Regions from separate parts of the Homo sapiens genome. Here region 2 is linked to region 1. The links come from fine-mapping of genetic effects on gene expression. A gene starts in region 1. The other region holds a variant in brackets. All regions are shown on one strand. Distances are between the middles of the regions. Region 1 holds the start of SRSF4 (serine and arginine rich splicing factor 4). Region 2 has its middle 11 kb from the start of TMEM200B.

Region 1 (12,639 bases):
AAAATTCGCCAGACACAGTGGCTCACACCTGTAATCCCAGCACTTTGGGGGGCCAAGGCAGGCGGGTCACCTGAGGTCAGTTCGAGACCACCCTGGCCAACATGGTGAAACCCCGTCTCTACTAAAAATACAAAAATTAGCCGGGAGTGGTGGTGCACGCCTGTAATTCCAGTTTTTCAGGAGGCTGAGACAGGAGAATTGCTTGAACTCAGGAGGTAGAGGTTGCAGTGAGTCGAGGTCGCACCATTGCACTCCAGCCTGGGCAACAAGAGTGAATCTCCGTCTCATACAAAAAAGTTAACATAGGCTGGGCGTGGTGGCTCACGCCTGTAATCCCAGCACTCTGGGAGGCAGAGGCAGGCAGATCATGAGGTCAGGAGTTCAAGATCAGCCTGGCCAACATGGTGAAACCCCATCTCTATTAAAAATGCAAAAATTAGCCGGGTATGGTAGCGGGCGCCTGTAATCCCAGCTACTCGGGAGGCTGAGGCAGGAGAATTGCTTGAACCCGGGAGGTGGAGGTTGTAGTGAGCCAAGATCGCGCCATAGCACTCCATCCTGGGCAACAAGAGTGAAACTGTCTCAAAAAAAAAAGACAAATAGGCATTACCTGCTAAAAAAAAGCTTGAGCGCACCTGAAGCCCTGCAGCTTCCTGACTCTGCCATCTCTCCCTGTCCTCTTCTGGGACCATCCACCCAGTGACTACCTATAGTTGCTGCCACAATATTGGTAAATGGAGGCCAGGCGCAGTGGTTCATGCCTTTAATCCTAACACTTTGGGAGGCCAAGGCAGGCAGATAGCCTCAGGTCAGGAGTTCGAGACCAGCCTGAGCAACATGGAGAAATCCTGTCTCTACTAAATTAATTTGTACTAAAAATACAAAATTAGCCGGGCGTGGTGGCAGGCACCTGTAATCCCAGCTCGTTGGGATGCTGAGGTAGGAGAATTGCTTGAACCCAGGAGGTGGAGGTTGCAGTGAGCCAAAATTGCACCACTGCATTCCAGCCTGGGCAACAGAGTGAGACTCCATTTCAAAAAAAAAAGTAAACTCCAAATCCTTCCCATGATCCTTGAGGCCCCTCAAGATCTGGTCTCTCCAGGAGTTCGAGGCTAGCCTGGCCAACATGGTGAAACCCCATCTCTACTAAAAATACAAAAATTAGCCAGGCATGGTGGTGTGCGTCTTTTTTTTTTTTTTTTTTTTGAGACAGAGTCTTGCTGTGTTGCCCAGGCTGGAGTGCAGTGGCACAATCTCAGCTCACTGCAAGCTCCGCCTCCTGGGTTCACGCCATTCTCCTGCCTCAACCTCCCGAGTAGCTGGGACTACAGGCGCCCACCACCACGCCTGGCTAATTTTTTTGTATTTTTAGTAGAGATGGGGTTTCACCATGTTAGCCAGGATGGTCTCGATCTCCTGACCTCATGATCCACCCACCTGGGCCTCCCAAAGTGCTGGGATTACAGGCGTGAGCCACCTCGCCTGGCCTGTGGCGTGCATCTTTAGTTCCAGCTACTTGGGAGGCTGAGGCAGGAGAATCGCTTGAACCCAGGAAGCAGAGGTTGCAGTGAGCTGAGATCGCACCACTGCACTCCAGCCTGGGTGACAGAGTGAGACTCTGTCTCAACAAAAAAAGGAAAAAAAATTTGATAAATGTGTTTTCTTGGGATATGAGATAATTACGCACACTTTCCTCAGGGGAAGACTGAGGCCGAGAAGAATAAAGCTCTTGCGGCCAGGCATGGTGGCTCACGCCCGTAACCCAGCACTTGGGGAGGCTGAGGTGTGCAGATCACCTGAGGTCAGGAGTTCGAGACCAGCCAACATAGTGAAACACAGTCTCTACTAAAAATACAAAAAAAATTACCCAGGCATGGTGGCTCATGCCTGTAGTCCCAGCTACTCGGGAGGCTGAGGCACGAGAATCGCTTGAACCCGGAGGCGGAGGTTGCAGTAAGCCGAGATCTCACCACTGCACTCTAGCCTGGGCAACAGAGTGAGACTCGGTCTCAAAAAAGAAAAGAGAAAAGCTCTTGCGTTAACCTGTGTGTGCCAGGCTGTACTTGTGCATGGAAACTCTCAGAACACCCACCAGCCCCATGCTTATTGTCAGGCACCATGCCCTGAGTAAAGCACTAGGCCAAGCCACAGCAGCTGGAAATGGTGGAGAAGAGAAGGCTCAGTCCTGGCACAACATCTGCTTGCATCTGAAGGCAGGAACATTCCTGGGAAGACAGCAGGGCTAGCTGAAAGGTAAGTGGAAAGGAGACATTGGCACCTTATGAAAGAGAAAAAAGAGATTCTTAGAAATTTCCTATGTCATTGAGATGTTAATGTCACCACTTTACAGAAGCAGCAGCCTCCCAGAGATGTGAAGTGAGTTGTTCCAGATCACACAGCAGGCAGCAGAGCTGGCACTAGAAGCCAGATCCCCTGACCATATCTGGTCACTACAGCAGACAGTCCCAATTCTTTTGGCTCCACAGGTGGCCTTGGAGGTCCCACTCTTCTCACGAGTCCTTGATTTTGTTCTTGACATGTCAACTGGAAGAGCATTCAAATTTCCCTGAGTCTGTGTCTCATGGGGAGGCATGAGAAAAAGGCAGAATCAGGAGGCCATTGAAGTAGTCCAGGTAAGAGATTATTTATGTATTCATTCAATAAGTATTTTAAACGCTCTTTATGTGAAAGGCACTGTTGTTAGGGGCTAGGGATAGAGCAGGAAACAAAAAACATGGCCCCTGAGACCAGCGAGCTTACATTCCAGTGGTGGAGAAAGACCATGCACAAGTAAATAAATAAACCAGGTAATTACAGACTGTGTAGTAAGTGTTGTGAAATATGACAAACAACACTTGAAATAAGGTGGACATGGAAGGCCTCAGGCCTGAATAAGAAGGAGCCAGCTGTATTCCAGGCAGAGGAAGTAGCGCATATCAAAGCCCTGACTGTGAACAGTCTGATGAGGCCTGAACTAGTTTAGGAAGTAGGAATGGAAAGAAGGAATGAATCTGTGAATATTTAGAAGGAATAATCAGAAGGACAGACTGAATGCAGTGGTTGAAGGTTGAACTTTGGCACCTCGCTGATGGTGGTGCCACTTGCATTGGGGAAGGAGGAGCAGGTTTTAGGGACAAGCATTTCCCCTCTGGAGGGCTCTCTTTCCCATCTGTACAATAGGTTAATATAACAACCAAGCTTAGTGCTAGGATTTTTGTTTTCGTGGTTTTTTGTTGTTTTTGTGTGTGTGTGTGCATGTGATGGGGTCTCACTCTGACATCCAGGCTTGAGGACAGTGGCATGATCACAGATCACTGCAGCCTCAACCTCCCTGGGCTCAGGAGATCCCCCCCATCTCAGCCTCCCAAGTAGCTGGGACTACAGGCATGCACCGCCATGCCTGGCTAATTTTTTTTGTTGTTTTTTCTGCAGAGACGGGTTTTTGCCATGTTGCCCAGGCCAGATTGCTAGTTCTTAAGAATGTTATGTTCCTCACACTTACTGAATTCCAAATGAATTAAAGATTATGGCCGGGCAAGGTGGCTCACACCTGTAATCCCAGCCCTTTGGGAGGCCCAGGCGGGTGAATCACCTGGAGTTGGAAGTTCAAGACCAGCCTGACCAACGTGGAGAAACCCCATCTCTACTAAAAATACAAAATTAGCTGGGCGTGGTGGCACATGCCTGTAATCCCAGCTACTCAGGAGGCTGAGGCAGGAGAATCACTTGAAACCGGGAGGCAGAGGTTGCAGTGAGCGGGGATCGTGCCATTGCACTCCAGCCTGGGCAACGAGTTAAACTCTGTCTCTAAAATATATATACATAAATTAGCTTGGCATGGTGGCACGGGCCTGTAGTCCCAGCTACTCAGGAGGCTGAGGCAGGAGAACCGTGTGAACCCAGGAGGCACAGGTTGCAGTGAGCCAAGATCATGCCACTGTATTCCAGCCTGGGTGACAGAGCAAAACTCTGTCTCAAAAAATAAAATTGAATTAAATTTAAAAAATAAAATAATAAATAGGAGGTTGGGTGCAGTGGCTCATGCCTGTAATCTCAACACTGGGAGGTCCAGAAGGGAGGATTGCTTGAGCCCAGTTGTTTGTTTGTTTCTTTTTTGAGACAAAGTTTCGCTCTTGTTGCCCAGGCTGGAGTGCAATGGCACAATCTTGGCTCACTGCAGCCTCCGCCTCCTGGGTTCAAGCTATTCTCCTGCCTCAGCCTCCCGAGTAGCTGGGATTATAGGCGCCTGCCACCATGTCTGGCTAATTTTTTGTATTTTTAATAGAGACAGGGTTTCACTATGTTGGCCAGACTGGTCTCGAACTCCTGGCCTCAGGTGATCCACCCACCTCGGCCTCCCAAAGTGCTGGGATTACAGGTGTGAGCCACTGTGCCTGGCCTGAGCCCAGTAGTTTAAGACCAGGCAGGAAAACAACGAGACTCCATCTCTAAAAAAGTAGAATAGGCTGGGCGCTGTGGCCTGTTTTTGAGATGGAGTTTTGCTCTTGTCACCCAGGCTGGAGTGTGATGGCACGATCTCGGCTCACTGCAACCTCTGCCACCTGGGTTCAAGCAATTCTCCTGCCTCAGCCTTTTGAATAGCTGAACTACAGGCCCACACAATCACACCTGGCTAATTTTTTGTATTTTTAGTAGAGATGGGGTTTCCCCATGTTGACCAGGCTGGTCTTGAATCCCTAACCTCAGATGATCCTCCTGCCTCAACCTCCCAAAGCGCTGGGATTACAGGCGTGAACCACCGCACCCAGCCACTAATTATTACTTTCAAAATAGATTTCTTGCCGGGCGCGGTGGCTCACGCCACCTCACCTGAGGTCAGGAGTTTGAGACCAGCCTGGCCAACATGGTGAAACCCAGTCTCTATTAAAGATACAAAAAAATTAGCCAGGCGTGGTGGCACATGCCTGTAATCCCAGCTACTTGGGAGGCTGAGGCAGGAGAATTGCTTGAACCTGGAGGCAGAGACTGCAGTGAGCCAAGATAGTGCCACTACACTCCATCTTGGGCAACAGACCAAGACTCCATCTCAAAAAAAAAAAAAAAAAGCCGGGTACAGTGGCTCACGCCTGTAGTCCCAGCACTCTGGGAGGCCGAGGCAGGCAGATCACGAGGTCAGGAGATCAAGACCAGCCTGGCCAACATAGTGAAACCCCTTCTCTACTAAAATACAAAAAAATTAGCCGGGCGTGGTGGCAGGTGCCTGTAATCCCAGCTACTCTAGAGGCTGAGGAAGGAGAACGCTTGAACCCAGAAGGCGTAGGTTGCAGTGAGCTGAGATCGCACCGCTGCACTGCAGCCTGGGCGACAGTGCGAGACTCAGTCTCAAAAAAAAAAAAAAAAAGTAGAATAAATAAAAATTTAAAAATAAAATCCAGAATCAAAGAAAAATAAAGGATGGATAAATTGATCCCATAAATATCTAATGTTTTTGCATGGCTAAAAAACACTCTTGGCAAAGTCAAAAGTCAACAAATGGAAAAAATATTTGCAACTCATTTGACAAAGAGCTGATTTTCCTAATATATAGTGAGCACCTATGAATAAGAAAAATGGGTAAAGGATATACACAGACAGAAATAGGAAAATATATCTCAAACATATGAAGAAAGACTCATATCTCTGCAAAATATGATATTTGCAAATTAAACCACTTGGAGATAACATTTTTCACCTCTCAGATTGGCAAAGATCAAAAAGTTTGATAACACGGTGTTGATGAGGATATGAGGAAACAGCCACTTAAGGGGAATTGAGCAATAACTTATCAAAACTCTGACCCAAATATCCTATTTCTAGGAATAGATGATATATATAGAGAGAGAGAGAAAGAGAGAGAGAGAAATGCAAAGTTACTGCAGCAGTGTAATAACAAAAGGTTGGAACTTATTTCAATGTCCTTCACCAGGGCACTGGCTAAATAAATTACTGTGTATAAAATGGTATGAACCATAAAACTAGTCCTTTTATACTCTTAAGGAATGATTTTCAAAATATATTTTGTGTAGAACCATATGTATAGTATCCTACTATTTGTTTTATAAGGGTAAATTAACCTCCTAAAGGACATTTCAGAAACTGCCTCTGGGAAGAGAAACTAAGTGGCTGGTGGACAGCGAAGACTTTTCACTGTGTATCATTTGAACCTTGAGTTATCCTTTCAAAATATTCAAAAAACAAAAACAAGCAAAGAAACAAAACCCTTTATGGTTCTAGGTACATGGCGTTAGTGAGAAGGGAACCAATATTTATTGAGCTCTTACCATGTTTCAGACACTGTTCCAAGTACTTTCACATACACTACCCCATTTAGTGACCTGTGTAATCCTTGAGATGGGTATACATTATTCTAATTTTACAGGTTAGAAAATAGACTGGATAGGCCAGGCGCAGTGGCTCACGCCTGTAATCCCAGCACTTTGGGAGGCCAAGGCGGGCGGATCACCTGAGGTCTGGAGTTTGAGACCTGCCTGGCCAATATGGTGAAACTTCCTCTCTCCTAAAAATACAAAAATTAGCCGGGCGTGGGGGCGGGCGCCTGTAGTCCCAGCTACTCTGGAGGCTGAGGCAGGAGAATCGCTTGAACCCGGGAGGCGGAGGTTGCAGTGAGCTGAGGTCGCGCCACTGCACTCCAGCCTGGGCGACCGAGCGAAACTCGTCTCAAAAAAAAAAAAATAGGTTGGATTGTGGTCAAGTAATTTACTCGGCGTCATGCCTAGTCTAGCTCCAAAGCTCCAGCCTTCTCCGCTTCTCACACTGCTTCTATTTAAGCAGTGTCCTCTTAAAAATAATACTGGTCTCATTTATTGGGCACTTGATATGACAAAACTACTAAGTGCTTTATGTACGTATTCTCATATAATTCTCAAGACAACTCTGGAAGGTAGGAACTACTCTCCCCCTTTTACAGAAAAGATAAAGGAGGGTCCGAGACATCGCGCGTAACAAGCCCAAGGTCACGGGTACACAATCGTTTGGAAGCTAGGTTTGATTCCAAAGCTCCAGCTCCGAAATCCAAACCACACCCGGTTCAAAGGACAAAAGCACAAACGCTCGCTCGCTGGGCTCTAGGAGGTGCGGACACTTCCGGGGGAGGGGCGAAGCCAGCTGGCTGCGGAAGGCGGTGCAGGAACCCCTTTGGCGAGCTCGCGCGAGGACGTGCCGCAGCGCCGCCTGTCGATCACCTTGCCCCGCCGCACGTCGGCGCGCCCCCGGGCAAGCTCCTCCCCCAGTCCTGGCCGAGCGGGAAGCGAACGCGCGCTCTCTCCGGTTACCTTCCGCCTCGGGGAAGGGCGGGGGAAGTGGAAGCGCGCGCTCGCGAGCTGCGTGCTCGCGTACGTCGCCGGGGTTCGGCTGCGTCCGTCCCGCCGCCCGCCCGTTGCCGCCGCCGCCGCTGCCGCCGTGCTCTCGCTTTGCCCGCCGCCGCCTAAGGGGGGCTGGGGCCGGGGCCAGCCATCACTGCCGTTGCCGGGATGCCGCGGGTGTACATCGGCCGCCTGAGCTACCAGGCCCGGGAGCGCGATGTGGAGCGCTTCTTTAAGGGCTACGGGAAGATCCTGGAGGTGGATCTGAAGAACGGGTGAGGAGGGCGAAAGAGGGTCCGGCCGGGCGGGGACAGACCCCATAGGTGGTGGGGAGGCCGCGGGGACGGGAGAGGGACGCCTGGTCCGCGCGGAGCGGCTACCGGCCTGGCCAGGCTCCGCCATAGTGGCGGCGCCTCGGGGGCGCGGGTAGGCCCCGGTTCCCACTGCGCCTGCGCGGGTGGGGGTGGTGGAGGCATAATGGGAGCTGTGCTGAGGCCCTGAGTGGGACGGGGAGAAGGAAAGCCCGAGTGGGGCTGGTGCTCCGGGCAGGGGGGCACAGCTCCAGGGCGCCCGGGAGACCTGGGTTTTCCCTTCCTAGGCCCGGAACTGGGGCCCTATTCGTTTCTGGGTAGACACCAACCTTTCCCGCTCTGAGGACTACTGGAAATAAACAGGATTTCCTGCTCCCTTTCACCTCTTGCCCGGTCTCATGGATCAGACGGTCACAGCGCCGTCTTCCCCGAGGACTGGAGCCTTGGAGGGAGGCCCTTTTTAGCCGTGTGCCACGCTTTTTTGGGCGGGAGACTCCAGTTTGAGTAGTCTAGTGACAGTTTCGAAAGTATCGTCTTGCCGTGCTGAAAGCCTTCACCGTTCCCTCTGCAAGAGTAAATTAAAGTCTTAACTTCTTATCTTTAAGACTCCGTGCAGAGTTTCCACGCTGTGGTTTCCGTTTTCCAACTTACCGAAAAATTGCTTGGCCGTTGTAGAATTTGTTAGGAGAATAGTGGCCACCCTGGCTAGTATCTGCGTCTGGTTAACGCAGACGGAGACGAAATTGTTAACTTACTGCCTCCCCCAGAGTATGATCTATTACTTGTATTCTTAATCTACTTCGGCAAAAATAGTGCCAGCATGAGCTACAGGTTTTAGGGAAAACTGTTGAGGAATCAGGCCTGGAGAAAATACTCAACGGGGAAAACTGGGAACCAGATGTTAGGTAGGGCTTGGAAGGCATGGATATAAAATTAAAAGGACTGGGGTGACATTTTAGGGCACTAAACCTTGGGTGTTAGAGAACTCTTGGCTTAAAAAAGAAACTCTACTTTGCAACAGTTGTAATATAGCTACCGTTTACTCCCCAGGGTTATACTAGTAACTGACACCTGAAACATTTTGAAAGTTACCTAAGTATGTTTCACGTATGAGAAAACTGGTAGCTACCGTATTCTCAAATGATGATTTGGGTTTAAAAAGCCATTTCAAATTAATTATTAGAATCGTTTTCTTTCTGAGGACGTCTTTAGTAAAGTACTGATTTCTTTTACAGTAAAAGGCTTTAAAAACTACTCCTTTTCTACAGTAAAACGTTCAGTTCTTAAGGATATATTGAAGTGGCGGGTAGACGTTATTGTATACATACCATATATGTGAAAGTTGAAACTCCAGTTTTTTTCAGAGCCCAGCTAAATTGACAGCATAACTAACTTTTGTGGACAAAGTGTGGATTTTGAAGCCAGCCAGGCCTAAGTCAAATCCTGGTTCCACCACTTACTACGTATGGGCAAGTTACTTCTCTGAACCTGGTTGTTCATTCATGTGGAAAAGGAAGATTAGAGATAATAAATGTAAAGCATTTGGCTTAGGCAGTAAGTGGCAGCTATAATCAGAGGGATGAGGAAACATCTTTGCTTGTTGGTGTTTGATAACATAAAGCGTGTTTGGTGAGGTCTTTTCTAATGTTACTCAGGTGATAGTGTGCAGGAAATGACAAGACTGTTAATGGGAAACTGATTCATCAACCAAATGTATTGATAACCCATCAACAAAATGTCCACCACTGTGCTAAATGAATTGGGGGAGGAGGCAGAAAACAGTTCTGCTCTTGAATAAATTAAGCATTATGACATGTGCACTTTGAATTAAGAAATGTTTGCTTTCGCTTTAAACTCTAGTAAAACTTGGAATGATTTGCTTGAAAAGATGTGTTGAAATGGCTTTGAAGAATAGATTAGAGCTTGAAGTGAAGAAATTTAGGTTTCTGGGAATAGTATATGTCGTAGTTGGGGCTCAGGCATGGTGACTTGTGCCTGCAATCCCAGCTGAAGTGTGAAGATTACTTCAGGCCAGGAGTTTGAGACCAGCCTGACCCCATCTCTAAGAAAAAAATTTTTTTAATTAGCCACGCGTGGTGACACTCGCCTATAGTCCTAGCTACTTCAGAGGATGAGGCAGGAGGATCACTTCAGCCTAGGATTTCAAGGCTACAGTGAGCTATGATTGTGACACTGCACTCCAGTCTGGGTAACAGCAAGACCCCCATCTCTAATAAAATAAGTACAATGCTGACTTTTTTTGCTTTTTGATGAATAGGGAAAAAATATTTTTTTAATGTCATAATTGGTGTTGAAGACATGGTCCAGTAAGAAGCAATTATGAAAAATAATAAACAATCTAGCATGGATCAAGCCTTATGAAGAATCTAGAAATTTAACAACATAAACCAGAAACAACGACTATTAGATTTTACACTAAAAATTCGAAATCAATGAGTAGGAATTCAAAGGCTCTGGAAGGAAGAAGTGAGCAACCCAAAAGGAAGATGGAGCGATAAGAGGAAAGAGCCTTTCAGGACCCTAAATACCTGGGTGGTTTTTTTAAGGAACTGTTCATTCTTACAGTTATGCTGCCAAACCATGATATGCATGAAATGTCATTGAAAGTCAAGGTTGAAATGAAGTCATTTTAGAGTTTCAAAGACAGGTATGACAGTCACCAAACAGCACACAATATGACCTCCTGGCATCATTGAGGAATCATTACAGAGGAAAACGACTTCTGGGAAGAAGACCAATGGTAAAGATGTATTTCAAGCAAAAATTGCCTGTATGGCAAAAACGCTGGAGAGTCTGAAAGGAAGGAGTGAGTACAAAAGAAAAAGCATAACTTAGCTACGTATGTAAGCTTATAGTCCCCTAGCAGAAGGGCAGTGGATCTCCCTACTGGGAAGCATGTTTGAACATATCTAGATTGTGATTAGTAATTGAAACTCAGAGGCCGGGCGCGGTGGCCTGTAATCCCAGCACTTTGGGAGGCCGAGGCGGGCAGATGACGAGGTCAGGAGATCGAGACCATCCTGGTTAAGATGGTGAAACCCCGTCTCTACTAAAAATGAAAATAAAAATTAAAAAAAAGTAGCCGGGCATGGTGGCAGGCACCTGTAGTCCCAGCTACTCGAGAGGCTGAGGCAGGAGAATGGCGTGAACCTGGGAGGTGGAGCTTGCAGTGAGCCGAGATCGTGCCACTGCACTCCAGCCTGGGCGACAGCGAGACTCTGTCTCAAAAAAAAAAGTAATTGAAACTCAGAAACAGATTTTGGATGCTTTAGATAGGTCTTTGAAGAATTGCTGGAGTTCAGATTTGTAGAAGTGAGATGTATCAGTAGATATGTTAGGCTGAAGGGTTGTAAGTTAAGTTTAGAATTAAGGCATAAAATGCTTGTCTAGACCGGTCACGGTGGCTCACACCTGTAATCCCATCACCTTGGGAGGCCGAGGTAGGTGGATCACTTGAAGTCAGGGGTTTGAGACCAGCCTGGCCAACATGGTGAAACCCCATCTCTACTAAAAATACAAAGATTAGCTGGGTGTGGTGGTGGGCACCTGTAATCCCAGCTCCTCTAGAGGCTAAGGCAGGAGAATTGCTTGAACCTGGGAGGTGGAGGTTGCAGTGAGCAGAGATTGCATCACTGCACTCCAACCTAGGCAACAGAGCAAGACTCTGTCTCAAAAAAAAAAAAAAAAAAAAAAAATCTTGTGTAATAGGAAGATGACCAAATAAGGAAACAAATGAGTTCTTCAAAGGAGATTTAGTGTTCAGGAAAGGATTCTATGGACCCTGAGAGGGTTTGGAGAAGAGGTGTGTAAGCAAGAGTTCATTGCCTACCGTTTTATTACACCAGGCATCGCTAATGTAGATTGCCACTGTTCTAGAGAACTTTTTGAAAGATGGTTTGGGACCACAAATACAACGAAGATCTCCCAGGATCATATAGACCATTCCATTTCCCATTAAGGTCTCCTACTTTTCTACCCGCCCCATAAACTTCAAGAGTCACTGCAAGGGCCTGGCACGGTGGCTCACACCTGTAACCCCGGCACTTTGAGAGGCCAAGGCAGGCAGATCACCCAAGGTCATAAGTTCAAGACCAGCCTGACCAACATGGAGAAACCCCTGTCTCTACTAAAAATACAAAGTTAGCCGGGCGTCGTGGCACATGCCTGTAATCCTGGCTACTCGGGAGGCTGAGGCAAGAGAATCACTTGAACCTCAGAGGCATAGGTTGCGGTGAGCCGAGATCCTGCCATTGCACTCCAGCCTGGGCAACAAGAGCAAAACTTCGTCTCAAAAAAAAAAAAAAACAAAAAGAGTTACTGTAGGGAAGGGAGGGGCAGGAATCCTAGATGCACGTCAAGGAAGCAACAATATTAGCAGCACTTGTTTATACCCTTTCAGCTCTGTGGTAACTTTTGTTGGCTTTGATTGTATATAGATTTTATTTTTTATAATAAGCCATTTCATGTAAAGTGTGAAAGAATTTTGAGTACACTAGTTGCCCTTTTGTCATAAAATCTTGTGGTTTTAGTCAGATCTTTATATCTTAGCTTTTCCATATTTTAGTTAATGAGTAAAACTTACCACATATTAAGATTATTTTGCCTGTCTAGTAGCTAGAAGGATAAACCCCCAGATCATTGAAATTTATAGTTTTATTTTTTAGTTCAAGTCATGAATTAAAACTCTCAAGGGAAACTTGGATTTAAACTTCAGAACCTGCGTTTCATGGAACAGTGAAATCATGAATAGCCTGAATTTTCAGGGGATGTTGTGGTCTGTTTAGTCATGCTATCTAATTATTACCAGAAAATTTTTGTTTTCGCCCTTGTTTAATGCACCATAATTTTTTTAATGTGGAGTTCAAGACTCTTCGAGTGAGGCAGGTCGTTGTTGTGTATGTCACTGCTCACTGGAGGGCATTATTAAGCCTTAGATACTGAGAAGAATTACTGCCAACCCCAGCACCTACACAGGGATTTTTCTC
Region 2 (12,639 bases), 48 kb after region 1:
GAATGGCATGAACCCGGAAGGCAGAGGTTGCAATGAGCCGAGATCATGCCACTGCACTCCAGCCTGGGCGACAGAGCAAGACTCCGTCTCAAAAAAAAAAAAAAAAAAAAGAAACTTGGAGTAGCTATATTTCAGACAAAGCCAATTCAGAGGAAGGAAAATTGCCAGGAATAGAGTGGCATTACATAATGGTAGAGGGGTCAGTTCTCTAAGAAGATAGAAAAATCGCCAGGCCCAGTGGCTCACACCTATAATCCCAGCACTTTGGGAGGCCGAGGTGGGTGGATCACCTGAGGTCAGGAGTTCAAGACCAGCCTGACCAACATGGTGAAACCCCGTCTCTACTAAAAACACAAAAATTAGCCAAATGTGGTGGCACAGGCCTGTAATCCCAGCTATTTGGGAGGCTGAGGCATGAGAATCACTTGGACCCAGGAGGCAGAAGTTGCAGTGAGCCCAGATCACGCCACCACACTCCAGCTTGGGTGACACAGTGAGACTCAGTCTCGGAAAAAAAAAAAGATACGAAAATCTTCAATTAGCTTATGTGCCTACAGCAAAGCATCAAATGTGTGAGGCAAAAACAGACTAGCAAGAAGAAAGACATTCACTGGTGCAGGCAGAAAATTAGTAAGGACATAGTTGAACTGAACAGTGCCGTAAACCAACTAGAATCTTTTTTTTTTTTTTTTTTGGAGACAGAGTCTCACTCTGTCGCCCAGGCTGAAGTTCAGTAGCGTGATCTCAGCTCACTTCAACCTCCAACTCCTGGTTCAAACGATTCTCCAGCCTCAGCCTCCCAAGTAGCTGGGACTACAGGCACCCGCCACCACCCCAGCTAATTTTTGGGTTTTTTTGTTTGTTTGTTTTTGTTTTCATTTTTTTGAGACAGAGTCTTGCTCTGTCGCCCAGGCTGGAGTGCAGTGGCGCGATCTCGCTCACTGCAAACTCTGCCTCCCAGGTTCACGCCATTCTCCTGCCTCAGCCTCCCGAGTAGCTGGGGTTACAGGTGCCCGCCACCACACCCGGCTAATTTTTTGTATTTTTAGTAGAGACGGGGTTTCACCGTGTTAGCCAGGATGGTCTCGATCTCCTGATCTCATGATCCGCCCACCTCGGCCTCCCAAAGTGCTGGGATTACAGGCGTGAGCCACCACACCCGGCCCAATTTTTGTATTTTTCTTAGAGATAGGGTTTCACCATGTTGGCCAGCATGGTCTCGAGCTCCTGACCTCAAGTGATCTGCCTGCCTTGGCTTCCCAAAGTGCTGGGATTACAGGCGTGAGCCACCTCTCCTGGCAACCAGCTAGATGATTGACATTTATAAAATACTTCATCTGTTGCTGCGTGTGGTGGCTCATGCCTGTAATCCCAGCACTTTGGGAGGCCAAGGCAGGCAGATCAAGAGGTCAGGAGTTTGAGACCAGCTTGGCCAGCATAGTGAAACCCCATCTCTACTAAAAATACAAAAATTAGCCGGGTGTGGTGGCACGTGCCTGTAGTCCCAGCTACTTGGGAGGCTGAAGCAGGAGAAATGCTTGAACCCTGGAGGCAGACGTTGCAGCAAACCAAGATTGCGCCACTGCACTCCAGCCTGGGCGACAAAGCGAGACTCTGTCTCAGAAAAAAAAAACAGATAATTTCCTCCTAAGGTAGGAACAAGGCAAGGGTTGTCATTTCTTATCCTCCTATTCAACATCATAGTGGAAGTCCTAGCTAGTGCAATAAAACAAGAAAAGGGAAAGCAGGTATACACATTGGAAAGGAATAAATAAAATTGTCTTTGTTTATGGAAAACATGATCATCTTTGTAGAAAATCCCAAAGAGGCTGGGCTCTGTCACTCACACCTGTAATCACAGCACTTTGGGAAGTTGAGGCAGGCTGATTGCTTGAGCCCACGTGTTTGAGACCAGCCTGGGCAACATGGTGAGGCCCCATTTCTATAAAAAATACAAAAATTAGCCGGGCTTGGTAACACCCACCTGTAATTCCAGCTACTCAGGATGTGGAGGTGGGAGGATCTCTTGAGCCCAGGAGATTGAAGCTGCAGTAAGCCGAGATCACGCCAGTATACTCCAGCCTGGGTGACAGAAGGAAACCTTGTCTCAAAAAAAAAAAAAAAGGAAAAATTGCACACATAAGAGGAGTGAAAGAGAAGCAAACCCAGCACTTGCACCTCTTGGTATAGACCTACTAGAAGTGTGTAGGCCAGGTTGGGCACAAATGACTCGAGCACAACATATCCTGACCACCAAAACCAAAAACAACCTGTAAGTCTTTTCAACAGTAGAATGGACAATTGTGGGCTGGGTGCAGTGCCTCACGCCTATAATCCCAGCACTTTGGGAGGCCGAAGCGGGTGGATCACCTGAGGTCAGGAGTTCGAGACCAGCCTGGCCAACATGGAGAAATCCTGTCTCTCCTAAAAAATACAAAAATTAGCCGGGCGTGGTGGTGCATGCCTGTAATCCCAGCTACTCAGGAGGTTGAGACAGGAGAATCGCTCGAATCCGGGAGGCGGAAGTTGCGGTGAGCCAAGATCGTGCCATTGCACTCCAGTCTGGGCAAGAAGATTGAAACTCCATCTCAAAAAAAATAAAGGCTGGGCACGGTGGCTCACGCCTGTAATCCCAGCACTTTGGGAGGCTGAGGCGGGTGGATTGCCTGAGGTCAGGAGATCGAGACCATCTTGGCTAACACAGTGAAACCCCGTCTCTACTAAAAATACAAAATTAGCCGGGTGTGGTGGCAGGCACCTGTAGTCCCAGCTACTAGGGAGGCTGAGGCAGGAGAATGGCAGGAACCCAGGAGGCGGAGGTTGCAGTGAGCCAAGATCACACCACTGCACTCCAGCCTGGGCAACAGAGCGAGACTCTGTCTCAAAAAAAAAAAAAAAAAAAAAAAAGGACAATTGTGGTGTATTTATATAACAAAGTGCTATGTATTATAGCAATGGAAATGAACAAACTTCAGGTACATGAAGGAACATGGGTGAATTTCACAAACAAGAAGCCAGACACAAGCATAGCTCCACACACAGAAATTTCAAACAGGCAAAACTATATGACAGCTGTTTAAAAAACTAAATGAGGGGCCGGGCACAGTGGCTCACACCTGTAATCTCAGTGCTTTGGGAGGCCAAGGCTAGAGGATCACTTGAGACCAGGAGTTCTAGACCAGCCTGGGCAACAAAGCAAGACACAGTCTCACTTTTTCTTTTCTTCTTTTCTTTTCTTTCCTTTTTCCTTTCCTTTCCTTTTTTTCTTTTGTTTTTTCCTTTTTTTTGACAGTCTTTCTTTATCACTCAGGCTGGAGTGCAGAGGTGTGATCTCACCTCACTCCAATCTCTGCCTCCCGGGTTCAGGCTATCCTCCCATTTTAGCCTCCTGAGTAGCTGGGACTACAGGCGCCCGCCACCACGCCCGGCTAATTGTATTTTTAGTAGAGATGGGGTTTCACTATGTTGCCCAGGCTGGTCTCCAACTCCTCAACTCAAGTCATCTACCTGCCTCAGCCTCCCAAAGTGCTGGGATTACAGGCGTGAGCCAACAGGCTCGGCCAAGACCCTGTTTCTTAAAACTAAACTGTGGTATTAGAATCAGAATAGCACACACTTCTGGATAGAGGGAAGAGGTGGCACTTGGAAAGGGACATGGCGGGGGCTTTCTGGGGGTGCTGGCAGTGTTCTAGTCTTTGCCTGGTGGGGTTCATACCAGGCATTTGCTTCATGATAGTTTAATCAGCCAGACCAGGCAGGCGGATCACCTGAGGTCTGAGTTTGAGACCAGCCTGGCCAACATGGCCAAACCCCATCTGTACTAAAAATACAAACATTAGCCGGGCATGGTGGCGGGCACCTGTAATCCCAGCTACTTGGGAGGCTGAGGCAGGAGAATTGCTTGAACTCAGGAGGCAGAGGTTGCAGTGAGCCTAGATGGCGCCACTGCACTCCAGCCTGGGCAACAAAGCAAGGCTCCATCTCAAAAAATAATAATAATAAAAATATCAGCTGAACGTTCAAGTTTTTTTTTTTTTTTTTTTTTTTTTTTGAGACGGAGTCTCGCTCTGTCACCCAGGCTGGAGTGCAGTGGCGCGATCTCAGCTCACTGCAAACTCCGCTTCCCGGGTTCACGCCATTATCCTGCCTCAGCCTCCTGAGTAGCTGGGACTACAGGCGCCCGCCACCGCACCCGGCTAATTTTTTGTATTTTTAGTAGAGACGGGGTTTCACCGTGGTCTCGATCTCCTGACCTCGTGATCCGCCTGCCTCGGCCTCCCAAAGTGCTGGGATTACAGGCGTGAGCCACCACGCCCGGCCCTGAACATTCAAGTTTTATGTAATTTCCTGGAGGTGTATTATATTCACAATAAAAAGGGTTCCAAAGTGGGGTACAGTGGTGCATTCCTGTAGTCAGAACAACACAGGAGACTGAGACAGGAGGATCGCTTGAGCCCACCTCGGCCTCCCAAAGTGCTGGATTACAGGTGTGAGCCACCGTGCCCGGCCCTTTTTTTTTTTTTTTATCAGATAGAATATTTGTCCTTAATTCACACTTTCCAGGAAACCCTGATGTTTCTTAGAGAGTCTATGAAGAACTCTGGGATAGTCCTAAGGAAATGCAAATTAGGACAACCCCGCGGTATCGCGTTACACCTGGTATCTATTATGAAACCCAGCGCACAGCCAGGCTGTGACCGTGAACTCCACTCCCACACTGCTGCGGCGGCCAGAAATCACTGGCAGGAGCTGCATGAGAACTCCCACTCCTGGGCATCTATCCTGAGGTGACAACTCAAAGAAAAGTGCTCCAAGTACAAAGGTGTTTAAACTGGTGTTATTTATAACAGCAAGAAAAGTGGAAACCATCCAAGCCTGACACCAGGGCGGGCTGGTGGATCCCCCAGGGTGCCACTCCACAGCCACCGGGGTTCACGCACAGCAATTACTTTTCCCTACTCCTGAATTTACTTCCAACCGCACATACACCAGCAACTACAACGTAGACAACAAAACATTGTCGCTTAGCCACCACCAAATTGGACTGTAGATTCTTTTTTTTTTTTAGATGGAATTTCGCTCTTGTTGCCCAGGCTGGAGTGCAGTGGTGTGATCTCGGCTCACTGCAACCTCTGCCTCCTGGGTTCAGGTGATTCTCCTGCCTCAGCCTCCAAAGTAGCTAGGATTACAGGCGCCCGCCACCACGCCCAGCTAATTTTTTTTTTTTTTTTTTTTTTTAGTAGAGATGGGGTTTTACCATGTTGGTCAGGCTGGTCTTGAACATCTGACCTCAGGTGATTCACCTGCCTTGGCCTCCCAAAGTGTTGGGATTACAGGCGTCAGCCACCGCGCCCGGCCTGTAGATTCTTTCAATGATCTTTTATTCATGTTAATTTTTCCTCTCAAGCATCTCTTGGCAAGAGGAATTAGCAAAGAGGTTTGAAAGGTCTCTAGGGGCATCGTTGGCAGTTCTCCCAAACCAGAAATTTTCGAGGACCAAGTGATGTTGCAGAAGCATGTTGAACAAGCACTTCAGGCAGGGGGTTTCGCCTCAGTGATCAGAGGTGCTGGCGTCCCTGGGAAGAAAACCTTCAAGACCTCCAACCATCTGAGGACATTTTCTCCACATCCTTTTGGCTGTCTCTCCTGACTGTATATTACAGACATAAAATGTCTTTCAAAATATCTGTAGAAGACCAAACAAAGGATCTAACATGGACTGTGCACCGAGCACACGCCAGGCGTGAGTCGGGAGTTTCACACATTGAGTTGAGTGCAGGTGAGGACACTGGAGATTCTAGGAGTGGTATGGCTGTCTCTATTTTCTTGCTGTGTGACCTTGAACAAGCTACTTAAACTCTCTGGGCCATTGCTTCCTCACCTGTAAAATGGGAATAATTCATACCTTTACCTCCCAGCTCTGTGTAGAGAGGGCTCTGGAGTCAGATGATTTGGCCTGTAGTCCTGATGCTGCCCCATACTCTGTGTGACTTTAGCAGGGGGTCATTTCACCCCCGAGGCTGGAAGCAGAAGGTAGCTCTGTACCTGCTTCACCTGCAGGAGGTAAGGCCAGTGGCTTTGTGCAGGGCTGG[C/G]TTAGAGAGAGCGGGTGACAACTCCTGCCTGCTCCAGGCTGCCCAAGTGCCTTTCCTGCCCCTTTCAGGTTCATCCACACCAGCTCCTCCACTGCCACTGCCTCCTGAGGTCCCCAGCTCCCTCCTCAGAGCCTTGACACTGGAGATGGAGGTATCACCTTGGGGACCCCGACTGCAGCCTGCCACCTCCTTGGTCGCCTCCTCTGTAAAATGACCCGCCAAGCTACACTGATGCACAGGCCACCGTGCATGTGGGGGCAGCTGGCTGCTTTCTGAGCCTCCCAGGAAGGGGCTGGTAAATGAGGGGGCTCCCTGGGCCTCTTGTCCCCCTTTGCAATGGCAAAGCAGTGATCACAAATGTCCAAAAACATGTGACCTGATAAAGAAGCAAACTTCTAAAGGCCTGGGCTGGACACTCACCTAAGAAGCAAGGCCAGGCAAGCTCCTGCCGTGGAGGGTGCAGCCCACCGTGGCAGCTCGTCTAGGGCCAGATTGGGCTTAGACTCAGGAAGTCCTGGGTTGGAGCCCGGCTCTAACATTTCCCCTCGGGTTAAGTCCTTTTGTATGTCGGAGCCTCCGTGTCCTGTCCGTGGGGCAGGGACAAAGGCAGTGCTGCCCTCACTGGGCGTTAGAGGAGTACCCGGGACCTTGTTGGAGCCGCACCTAGCAGGGTAAATTTGACTCGATTCCCACGCCACGCTCCGATCGGGCTTGGCGCCATGCGGTTTAGCCACAGCGTTTTGTGGGTCCCCACCCCGACCGCTCCCAGGGGTTTTCTTTCTGTCGCAGGCCACGGACTGTTTGCAAGAGGGCGCATCCTTGAATCCTGAGGCCCAGAGGGGAACACGTGAGCGCCCAGGGTCCCCGAGTGTGGAGGCAGCGGAGAGCCGGGCGGGGTGCCTGCTTCCCTTCGCTGAACGCGGCGGGGCGCGGCCTCACGGCCAGGGGTTGGTCCGGGCCTCGGGAGGAGCCCATTCGCCGCCTCCCGCCTCCGCCGCCTGTCCTTGGGCCTCGCTGCCTCCCCCGGCCCTGGAGACCGGGGTCGCCCCCTCCACCTGGGGCCTGCCCTGCAGGATTCTCACCGGGAATCCCAGAGGTCCAGCCTCTGCTTTCCTTCCCAGCGACGCGCAGCTCAGTATCTCACCAGCAGTGCGATTTGTCACCAAATGGAAGAGCCGTGTCCCCGTGGTGTCTGTGGCAAAGACTCCGAGTTGTCTCCCACATGGCCACGCACCCTACTTGAGAAAAAGGGCGTGCTGGATGAGCGTTCTGGGTGTGCATTCGGTGCCTTGCAATGGTCTGCAGACTCGGGAGAGGGAACAGCAAGTGTCTTCAACCACCAAACAGGGAGAGTGCCACACCCGAGGGAGGGCAGAGCAACAGGAAGGAGAGGGCCAGGGCCTCCCTGCCCACTCGGGACAGCTACTGCTCCAGCTGCAAGCGAAGACTAACTCCCCTCTCTCTTGCTCTAGCAAGAACCCGCTCTCAAACTACTCTGGCAGCATGAGCCAGGCCCATTGTTCTGTAACTGGCAATCATCCCATTTCCAACTATTTAACAAGAGCTTACTACGGCCTCGAGTACCAGGCTGTTGGCAGTGGGTTACACTGGAGTAACAAGTCACTCCAATCACAGTGTTGCACGGTGCACGCAGTTTCCCTCCCTCCCTCCCTCCCTTCTTCCTCCTCTTCTCTTTCTTCTTTCTTTCCCTTTTTCTTTCTCCTTCCTTTTTTCCTTCCTTCCTTCCTTCCTTTCTTCTTTCCTTCTCCTCTCCTTTCTCTTTCTTTTTTTTTTCTTTTTCTTTTTTTTTTTTTGAGACAGAGTCTTGCTCTGTCACCCAGGCTGGAGTGCAGTGGCACAATCTCGGCTCACTGCAACCTCCGCCTCCTGGGTTCAAGCGATTCTTCTGCCTCAGCCTCCCGAGTAGCTGGGACTACAGGCACCCGCCACCACGCCCGGCTAATTTTTTGTATTTTAGTAGAGACGGGGTTTCACCATGTTGCCCAGGCTGGTCTCGAACTCCTGACCTCGTGATCCAACCGCCTCGGCCTCCCAAAGTGCTGGGATTACAGGCATAAGCCACTGCGCCCGGCCTTTCTCTTTCTTTCTTCCTTCCTTCCTTTTCTTTCTTTTCTTCTTTCTTTCTCCTTCCTTTCTTCCTTCCCTTCCTCCCTCCCTCCTTTCTTTCTTTACTTTTTTTTTTCTTTTCTTTCTTTTCTTTTTCTTTTCTTTTTTTTTTTTTTTTTTTGAGACGGAGTCCCTCTGTTGCCCAGGCTGGAGTGCACTGGCACGATCTTGGCTTACTGCAACCTCTGCTTTCCGGTTCTGGCAATTCTCCTGCCTCAGCCTCCCGAGTAGCTGGCACTACAGGCATGCGCCATCATGCCCGGCTAATTTTTTTTTTAATTTTTAGTAGAGACAGGGTTTCACCATGTTGGCCAGGCTAGTCTCAAACTCCTGACCTCAGGTGATCCACCCGCCTTGGCCTCTCGAAGTGTTGGGATTACAGCCATGAGCCACTGGGCCCGGCCCCTCCCTCCCTCCCTCCCTCCCTTTCTTTCTTTTTCTTTCATTTTCTTTCTTTATGTTTCAGAGACAGGGCTTTGCTATGTTGCCCACGCTGGTCTTGAACGTGTGGCCTCAAACTATCTACCCGCCTCAGCCTTCCAAAGTGCTGGGAGTACAGGTGTGAGCCACCATGCCCAGCCAAACACACATTTCTTGGTGTCAGCCAGGGCTGGCTGTTGCCCTGCTCCCCCTCTAAGGCACACCTTCCAACACAACAGTGCTTTTTTCTTAATTTACAGTGGCAGCGGTGGTGCGGGGGAGGGCATATATGTAATTTCCTCAATGGAGGCTTCTCCTACCCCATGTGCCTTGCTGTGACCTGTGACCTATAAGCCCTCCCAAAGGGAGAAGTGAGAAGCAGATCTTCATAGGACCCTCCAGCCTCACTCTTCTGCTGGACACACGGGTGGCAGGTGAGTGCCCACAGTCCCACTTCCAGCCAGCAGCCCTACTTCAAGCCCTTGGATCACCCAACTCCCAAGGTCCAGCCTGCGCACTCCCTAGGCTGCCAGTCACTTGCAGGGACCCCCATCACCACCTCCCAGGCTTCTGAGAGAATCCACGTGTCCAGCCTGTCCAGGCTTCCTGACCCTGTTCTCTCCCTCCCTCTAGTCCTTAGCTGATTGGACTGGAGATAGATGTCTGATCCAGGCTGAGTCCACTGGAACATTCAATAATTTGAAAAAGCTGGGAGCGGTGGCTCACATCTGTAATTCCAACACTCTGGGAGACTGAGGTGGGAGGATCGCTGGAGGCCAGGAGTTTGGGCAACATGGTGAGATCCTGTCTCTAGAAAAAAATACAAAAGTTAGCTGGGTGTGGTGGTACATGGCTGAGGTCTTAGCTACTCTGACTGATGTCAGAGAATCGCTTGAGCCCAGGAGGTTGAGGCAGCAGTGAGCTGTGATTGCACCACTGCACTCCAGCCTGGGTGACAGAGCAAGACCCTGTCTTAAAAAAAAAAAAAAAGAATTTGAAAAAGGCCACAGATATGAGGTAGAACATCAGAGCTCAGTTAATAGAAGCAGAAATAATAACAATAACAATAAAGGCAGCTAAGGTTTATCCGGCACCTCTGGCAGGGCTCAGCGATCTCTGACGACCCTCTGAGATGGGTAATTGGCAGGTAGTCTTGAGAGGTGACAGCATGCTGGCAGTCCTCACAGCCCTCGCTCGCTCTGGGCGCCTCCTCTGCCTGGGCTCCCACTTTGGCGGCACTTGAGGAGCCCTTCAGCCCGCCGCTGCACTGTGGGAGCCCCTTTCTGGGCTGGCCAAGGCCGGAGCCGGCTCCCTCAGCTTGCGGGGAGGTGTGGAGGGAGAGGCGCGGGCGGGAACCCGGGCTGCGCGCGGTGCTTGCCGGCCAGCGCGAGTTCCGGGTGGGCGTGAGCTCGGCAGGCCCCGCTGGCTCTGGGCAGTGAGGGGCTTAGCACCTGGGCCAGCAGCTGCTGTGCTCAATTTCTCGCCGGGCCTTAGCTGCCTTCCCTCCGGGCAGGGCTCGGGACCTGCAGCCCGCCATGCCTGAGCATCCCCCCTCCCTCTGTGGGCTCCTGTGCGGCCCTAGCCTCCCCGACGAGCGCCGCCCCCTGCTCCACGGCGCCCAGTCCCATTGACCACCCAAGGGCTGAGGAGTGCGGGCACAGGGCACGGGACTGGCAGGCAGCTCAACCTGTGGCCCCGGTGTGGGATCCACTGGGTGAAGCCAGCTGGGCTCCTGAGTCTGGTGGGGACTTGGAGAACCTTTATGTCTAGCTAAGGGATTGTAAATACACCAATCGGCACTCTGTATCTAGCTCAAGGTTTGTAAACACACCAATCAGCACCCTGTGTCTAGCTCAGGGTTTGTGAATGCACCAATGGACACTCTGTATCTAGCTACTCTAGTGGGAACTTGGAGAACCTTTGTGTCCACACTCTGCATCTAGCTAATCTGGTGGGGACGTGGAGAACCTTTGTGTCTAGCTCAGGGATTGTAAACGCACCAATCAGCGCCCTGTCAAAACAGACTGCTGGGCACTCTGTAAAATGGACCAATCAGCAGGATGTGGGTGGGGCCAGATAAGAGGATAAAAGCAGGCTGCCTGAGCCAGCAGTGGCAATCCTCTGGGGTCTCCATAGCAATCCTGTGGGGTCTCCATACATATTGTGGAAAATTTGTTCTTTTGCTCTTTGCAGTAAATCTTGCTGCTGCTCACTCTTTGGGTCCACACTGCCTTTATGAGCTGTAACACTCACGGGGAAGGTCTGCAGCTTCACTCCTAAAGCCAGCGAGACCACCAACCCACCAGGAGGAGCGAACAACTCTAGACGCGCCGCCTTAAGAGCTGTAACACTCACCACGAAGGTTTGCAGCTTCACTCCTGAGCCGGGAAGACCACGAACCCCACCAGAAGGAAGAAACTCCGAACACATCCGAACATCAGAAGGAAAAAACTCCGGACACGCCGCCTTTAAGAACTGTAACACTCACCACGAGGGTCCACGGCTTCATTCTTGAAGTCAGTGAGACCAAGAACCCACCAATTCCGGACACAGTTTGAGGCAGAAACAGGCCAGAGAAGTGAAGCGTCTGCCTGAGGTTATGGGGGCATGCCTCCTGAAGCAGTCAGCTGTGGCTTCTTCCACTTTTGGTGGATGAGTCTTCACCCCAACCCCTGAGGCATCTGGATAGGGCCCAGGGCTGCTTCCTTTCTGGTCCCTAACAGCCAGCCCAGAGGATGTGGCTGAAGAGATGCAATCAGTAGCCTCAGTCTCACACTCTACAGGGGGGAGAAGCGAGCACCAGCTGAAGGCCAGAAAAGCCATCCCTCAACTGTGCTGTGTTTGCTGCTACCAGAGCTGAGGGGTTTGATCCTAATAGCCCTCCATAGAGGAGGAAACAGAGGCATAAAGAAGTAAACTGGCATCCGGGCGTGGTGGCTTATGCCTGTAATTCCAGCACTTTGGGAGGCCGAGGAGGGGAGATCCCAGCACTTCGGGAGGCTGAGGCAGGAGAATTGCTCAAACCTGGGAGGAGGAGGTTTCAGTGAGCCAAGACAGTGCCATCGCACTCCAGTATAGGCAACAAGAGCAAAACTCCATCTCAAAAACAAACAAGTAGTCTGGACCAGGTGCGGTGGCTCACACCTGTAATCCCAGCACTTTGGGAGGCCAAGGTGGGTGGATCACATGAGGTCAGGAGATCGAGACTAGCCTGGCCAACATGGTGAAACCCTGTCTCTGCTAAAAATGCAAAAATTACCTGGGCGTGGTGGCACATGCCTGTAATTCCAGCTACTCGGGAGGCTGAGGTAGGAGAATGCTTGAAATCAGGAGGTGGAGGTTGCAGTGAGCCGAGATCACGCCATTGCACTCCAGCCTGGGCAACGAGTGAAATTCCATCTCAAAACAACAACAACAAAAACTACACCAGGTGTGGTGGCTCACACCTGTAATCCCAGCATTTTGGGAGGCTGAGGTGGGTGGATCACCTGAGGTCAGGAGTTCGAGACCAGCCTGACCAACACGGTGAAACCCTGTCTCTACTAAAAATACAGAAATAGCTGGGCATGGTGGCCCATGCCTGTAATCCCAGCTACTCAGGAGGCTGTGACGGGAATCGCTTGAACCTGAGAGGCGGAGGTTGCAGTGAGCTGAGATCGTGAGCGCAGTGAGCTGCACTCCAGCCTGGGTAACAGAGCGAGACTCCATTTCAAAAAAACCCAAAACGAAACAACAACCCCACCACACCTGCTTCTGACCTTGGCTCTGCCACTGACCAGCTGTGTGACCACAGACAGGGCCGGACCTGGTGAAGCTGTTTCCACATGTGTGATACAGGTGAGTGCTGTGCCAGGCTCACAGGAGTGTCTTGTACTCTGAAGTGATGGGTACAAAGGTCCTGGTAGCCAGGGCAGCTCGGTGAGATGGTGCTGTTCCTACTGTTATCCCTCCACCAAAGGACTCAGGCAGGAGGCTGGCATCACCCTGTCCCACAGGAGGG

Evidence for each region. PIP is the estimated chance that this variant, and not a neighbour inherited with it, causes the effect. A credible set is the group of variants that fine-mapping cannot tell apart.
Region 2: its variant is the best candidate, but not a certain one, in a credible set for the expression of SRSF4 in whole blood (INTERVAL, PIP 0.55).

What each region holds. Positions count from the first base shown.
Region 1 is chr1:29,176,604-29,189,242 of GRCh38, reverse strand. It overlaps SRSF4 (serine and arginine rich splicing factor 4), which reads left to right and starts at 7,343. Exons shown (of 6, transcript NM_005626.5): 1 at 7,343-7,597. The coding sequence starts at 7,491. It also overlaps a transcript of MECR not described here. RefSeq lists enhancers at 1,340-1,984, 6,015-6,652, 6,995-7,224, 6,653-7,290, 10,809-11,309 and 1 more and silencers at 7,295-7,504, 7,555-7,744.
Region 2 is chr1:29,128,797-29,141,435 of GRCh38, reverse strand. No RefSeq gene overlaps it. Among named protein-coding and RNA genes, the nearest start is that of TMEM200B, 11 kb to the right of the region's middle. The variant C/G (reference allele first, on the strand shown) is at 6,093.